2 separate regions of the Homo sapiens genome follow, and region 2 is linked to region 1. The links come from fine-mapping of genetic effects on gene expression. A gene starts in region 1. The other region holds a variant in brackets. All regions are shown on one strand. Distances are between the middles of the regions.

What was found. PIP is the estimated chance that this variant, and not a neighbour inherited with it, causes the effect.
Region 2: its variant is the best candidate, but not a certain one, in a credible set for the expression of RPS14 in thyroid (GTEx, PIP 0.52).

Annotation. Positions count from the first base shown.
Region 1 is chr5:150,448,031-150,450,842 of GRCh38, forward strand. RPS14 (ribosomal protein S14) reads right to left here and starts at 1,709. Exons shown (of 5, transcript NM_005617.4): 1 at 1,673-1,709. RefSeq lists enhancers at 1,226-2,164, 1,778-2,097.
Region 2 is chr5:150,424,187-150,426,998 of GRCh38, forward strand. It overlaps LOC124901106 (a long non-coding RNA gene), which reads left to right. Exons shown (of 2, transcript XR_007058994.1): 2 at 1-159. Among named protein-coding and RNA genes, the nearest start is that of CD74, 13 kb to the left of the region's middle. The variant T/C (reference allele first, on the strand shown) is at 1,381.

The sequences.
Region 1 (2,812 bases):
CCTGAAGGCTGCACCCCAAAAGGCAAGAAGAAACCCAAGACCAACAGCTACCCATGTACTGGTACCATTCCTAACACCCTTCATGGGGCGAGGGAGCTGCTTGATTCCTGCATGAACTCCTCAGCTTAGAATTCAAGGGACCCTTACCAACACAGCCCTCAAGCCTCTCATCTCCTGTTTTCCTGTGCTCCACCTGATCCCTTCAAAATGTTCAAAAATGCAACTGATTTGACTCCCACAACTATTTAGAACTAAATCTTTGTCACCAACATCAAATATCAAAGGCACTAAAATATATCCAAAAGGCAGGCTAATGGAAAAGACCCATCTCAGAAATCTGATGGGTCCTGAGACTAAATAACTCTAACCTATTATGACCTTCATAATAATTGCAATCATACTGTCACAAGATCTAAGGGAGAGAGAAACTGACAGGAGGAAGGCGGGTGAGAATGAATGAGAAAGTGGAAGGCTAGGATAAGACTGCTTCCGGCCTAAAGCCCCAGGCCTTCTGAACCTCCTGGTGTTCAGAACAATTTAACATTTTCAGAAGACACTAACACTAATCGATATCCTGCAGATGGTGAAGATAGAGAGTGTCTCAGCCTATGGTCACAGTAAAGACAGTGGCAAAACCAAACATAGAAACAACGTGTCCTGACTCCCAGCCCAGCACTCTCTGCCTCCTGCCAAGATGCCTCTACACCACAAATAACTACCCTAGTCTGTCTCAGGTGTTCCTAGATCTCTCCTCTGCCTTCCCTATATAAACTTTAGTTAAGTGTGTGACCACAGTAAGTACTTCAAGTGTAAGTCTTGGGTGTACGAAGTTAAATGTTCCTATCTTCAAATCAGACCAATGAGCACGACCCAGTGCGTTAACTATTGTAAGGAACGCGCCACAGGAGAGAAGCCCAAAGTTCTGCCTCGAGAAGCATAGAAAGGCTCCAGCATATCTCAAATACGTAAGCATGAGTATGTTTCGGCATGATGGCCATTCAGTAAATGCCAATTTGCAGTTTCTCCGTTCCTAACATCCCCTAAAGTAACGAGCAGAGTGGTCATCAGGAGTATATAAACGCAGGGCAAGCGCACAGCAAACATTGGTGCTGGGCCCTGAGCGCCCAGAACTTGCAACGTGCCCGACTCAGCAACGGAAAGAATCGCCCAGATTTAGAAGCATCCAACATAGTGCGAGAGTTTTCCCTGCTTTCCTTCTTTGAATGATCACTACAAACCCATGGGATCGGTGCTATTGTTATTCCTATTTTGCAAACGAGGAAACAAACGAGATTAGGCGTGGGCCTGCGATCACCAAGAAAAAAGTTTGGCGAGGTAGAGGCGGGAGCCCACGTCTGTCCCGGGTTCCCTCAACTACGCTGTGCAGCTCAAACGCGGCCGTGGCCGTGGCCGTATTGCGGGGCCGAGGCCTTAAAAGGCTGGACCCGCACTCACCCTTACTTCACAAGCTCCTCCCTGAAAGCAAAACGGGCCTTCTGAGACCAGGAACGAACTCAATCCCGAGTTGGCCAGGATCCAGGTGGGCCAGCCGCGCGTCTCTTGCCCGGCACCTAGCTCGGTTCCCACGGAAAGACCCCCGTCTCTCGTCCCAAGCCCCACAGGGTCCCCTCGCCGCAGGATGCCCCCCGATTGTCGCGCCCGGGCCTCCTACCTGCACGTCGTCTCCAGACTCCACACCGGAAAGAGAGAGTGGGAGGGGGCGGAGCGACGGGGGTCACTTCCGTGTCCCGGAAGTATACCTCTGAGGTCACGGGGCGAGGTCGGGTTCCGGAAGACGCCGGCATTATTCCTCCCAAAGAGTTTAAGACTCGTCATAAGGAAAGACGGTTTATTACTTAAGGGAGAGCGAAAAGAGGTAGAGGGCTGGTTGTCGCTGCGAGCGGGTCGGCCTAAGCGACAGTACGAAGCGGCTACACCCGCGGGGTGAGGTGGGCCTGTATTCCATGATGGCGGTGGTCGTGGCTAGACAGACTTCCGCCATCCTGACTCCCGCCCTGGCAGCCTTGGAGCGGCAGCGCCCCTTGTGTGGAGCAGGGGAATAACAACAACAAAACGGCCTTAATTAAAGCTAGGGTGGCGCCGGCCTGTGGTCCCAGTTACTCAGGAGGCTGAGGATCGCTTCGTCCAAGTAGTTCGAGGCCAGCCTAGGCAACATAGTCGGGGAAAACACACCGTAATCACTTACTTTGGCATATTATATAATGGGCAAAATAAGAATAAATTATTCAATATGTATTTTCAGACCGGTCTGGGCTAAACAGTTTATATGCATTGCTTCATTTACTCCTCAAGACATTATCAAATAATTTTGATTTCCCTCTTACAGATAAAGGATGTTAACTGAGAGCACACCTTTGCAGAAGGGTTTGGAATTCTAGCTTCAAAGCCCTCGTGTTTAATAGCTACTTCCACATAGCCCTCTAATAACAATATACATGTATATATTTCGACCGAATCTTGTTCTGTAGCCAAGGCTGGAGTGCAGTGGCGCAATCTCGGCTGACCGCAACCTCTGCCTCCCAGGTTCAAGCTATTCTGCCTCAGCCTCCCAAGTAGCTGGGACTACAGGCGCGTGCCACCACGCCCGACAAATTTTTTGTGTGTGTGTATTAGTAGAGACGGGGTTTTACCGTGTTGACTAGGGTGGTCTGGATTTTCTGACCTCGTGATCCACCTGCCTCGGCCTCCCAAAGTGCTGGGATTACAGGCGTGAGCCACCGTGCCCAGCCTCTAATAACAATATTGAAGGACCTTGAAGGCTTGGGAGAATATGTCGGAGCTGTGGGGAAGG
Region 2 (2,812 bases), 24 kb before region 1:
AGCCTCGGTGACAGAGCGAGACTCCGTCTCCAAAAAAAAAAGATAACACCTGCATTCTCCAAAGAATCAATGTCACAAAAAAAGGTGTATGTGTGTAGATACATGGGGATCTGTATTTTAAAGGATTTAAAAAACAATAAACCAAATGCAATTTGTAAATCTTTGTAAGATGTACGATTTGAAAAAAACAAGTATAAAAGATTTTTTTTTTTTTTTTGAGACGGAGTCTGGCTCTGTCGCCCAGGCTGGAGTGCAGTGGCGCAATCTCAGCTCACTGCAAGCTCCGCCTCCCAGGTTCACGCCATTCTCCTGCCTCAGCCTCCCGAGCAGCTGGGACTACAGGCGCCCGCCACTACGCCCGGCTAATTTTTGTATTTTTAGTAGACACAGGGTTTCACCGTGTTAGCCAGGATGGTCTCGATCTCCTGACCTCATGATCCGCCCGCCTCGGCCTCCCAAAGTGCTGGGACTACAGGCTTGAGCCGCCGCGCCCGGCCGTAAAGATTTTTTTAAAAGCAGGGAAATTTGAATATCAGATGGACATTTGGAAATTGTTATTGATCTTCTTAGGTATGATAATGAAGTTTTAGTCTGGTAGGAGAATTTTTTTAGGAGATGAGGCTGAAGTACTTGGAGGTAACATGACATGATGTTTGAACTTATTTTCACATTGTTTAGAGAAGAGAGAGAGAGTGGCCGGGTGTGGTGGCTCATACCTGTAATTTCAACACTTTCGGAAGCTGAGGTGGGAGGATTGCTTGGGAAGGCAGCTTGAGGCCAGGAGTTTAAGACTAGTCTAGGCAATATAGAGAGACCTTGCCTCTTAAATTTTTTTTTTTAATTAGCCAGGCATAGTAGTGCGTGCCTGTAGTCCTAGCTACTCAGGAGGCTGAGGCAGGAGGATCGCTGGAGCCCAGGAGTTCGAGGTTGCAGTGAGCTGTGTTCATGCCATGGCACTCCAGCCTGGGTGACAGAGCAAAACTCTCTCTCAAAAATAGAAATAAAGGCCAGATGCAGTGGCTCACATTTGTAATCCCAGCACATGGGGAGCCCAAGGCAGAAGGATTGCTTGAGCCTAGGAGTTCAAGACCAGCCTGGGCAACATAGTGAGACTCCATCTCCACAAAATTTTTTTTTTATTATCTAGGCCTGGTGGCAAACAACTGTAGTCCCAGCTACTCAAGAGGCTGAGATGGGAGGATGGCTTGAGCCCAGGAGATGGAGGCTGCAGTGAGCCGTGATCACACTACTGCACTCCAGCCTGGGTAACAGAGACCCTGTTTCAAAAAACTAAAAATAAAGACCTAGGCATGGTGGTTCATGCTGTAATTCTAGCACTTTGGGAGATCAAGGCAGGCAGATCACTTGAGCTCAGGAGCT[T/C]GAGACCAGCCTGCGCCACATGGTGAAACATCATCTCTACAAAAAATAAGCCAGATGTGGTAGCACGTGCCTGTAGTCCCAGCTCCTTGGGGAACTGAGGCAGAAGAATTGCTTGATCCCAGGAAGTCAAGGCTGCAGTGAGCCAAGATCATGCCACTGCACTCCAGCCTGGGTGACAAAGTGAGACCGTGTCTCAAAAAATAATAATAAATAAAATTAAAAGTAAGAGGTCAGACACAGTGGCTCACATCTGTAGTTACAACCCTTTGGAAGGCTAAGATGGGAGGATCCCTTGAGCCTAGGAGTTCAAGACAAGCCTGGGCAACATGGAAAGACCCCATCTCTACAAAAAATGTTAAAAAAAAAAAAAAAAAAAGAAAGAAAAAAGAAAAAATGAAAATAAAAAATTCACCGGGCATGGTGGCATGTACCTGTGGTCCCAGCTACTTGGGAGGCTGAGGTGGGAGGATCACTTAGCCCAGGAGATTGAGGCTGCAGTGAGCTGTGTTGTGCCACTGCATTTCATTCAGCCTTGGTGACAGGAGAAGACCCTGTCTCCAAAAAAAAAAATAAAACAAAATAATAAAATAAAACACAGAGAGAGAAGTGAAATTGATAGTAGTTGAAGCTAAGTGGTGGGTATCTGATCAATTTTTCTGTATGTTAAATTTTTTCTTAATAAATGGTTAGAAAAAATTTTAAGTCAATTATGTACAAACTCAGTTTCCTTTGTACAGGAATTGTCCTCACTGCCAAGAAGACATTGTTCATTCCCATTGTGGTTATATTGACAACTGGGGGACAATGGGCTCTTTTACAGCATAGGCACATAATGTGTGTGTGGTTTTTTTTTTTTGAGAGAGAGTTTCGCTCTTGTTGCCCAGGCTGGAGTGCAATGGCGCGATCTCGGCTCGCCGCAACCTCTGCCTCCTGGGTTCAAGCGATTCTCCTGCCTCAGCCTCCCAGCCTGTAGCTGGGATTACAGGCATGCGCCGCCCCCGCCCAGCTAATTTTGTATTTTTAGTAGAGATGGGTTTCTCCATGTTGGTCAGGCTGGTCTTGAACTCCTGACCTCAGGTGATCTGCCCATCTCAGCCTCCCAACATGCTGGGATTACATTATGGTCCCCCATGCCTGGCCCATAATGTGTGTTTTAATCCTCATCAAAATGTCTCAGTACTTTATGAGAAGTTTTCTATTTTGTTTTTCAGTTTTGTGTTTTTTTGTTTTGTTTTGTTTTGTTTTTGTTTTGTTTTATGGAGTCTTGCTCTGTCACCCAGGCTGGAGTGCAGTGGCGTGATCTTGGCTCACTGCAACCTCCGCCTCCCGGGTTCAAGTGATTCTATTGCCTCAGCCTCCCAAGTATCTGGGATTATAGGTGCCCACCACCATGCCTGGATAATTTTTTTTTTTCCATAGAGATGGAGTTTCA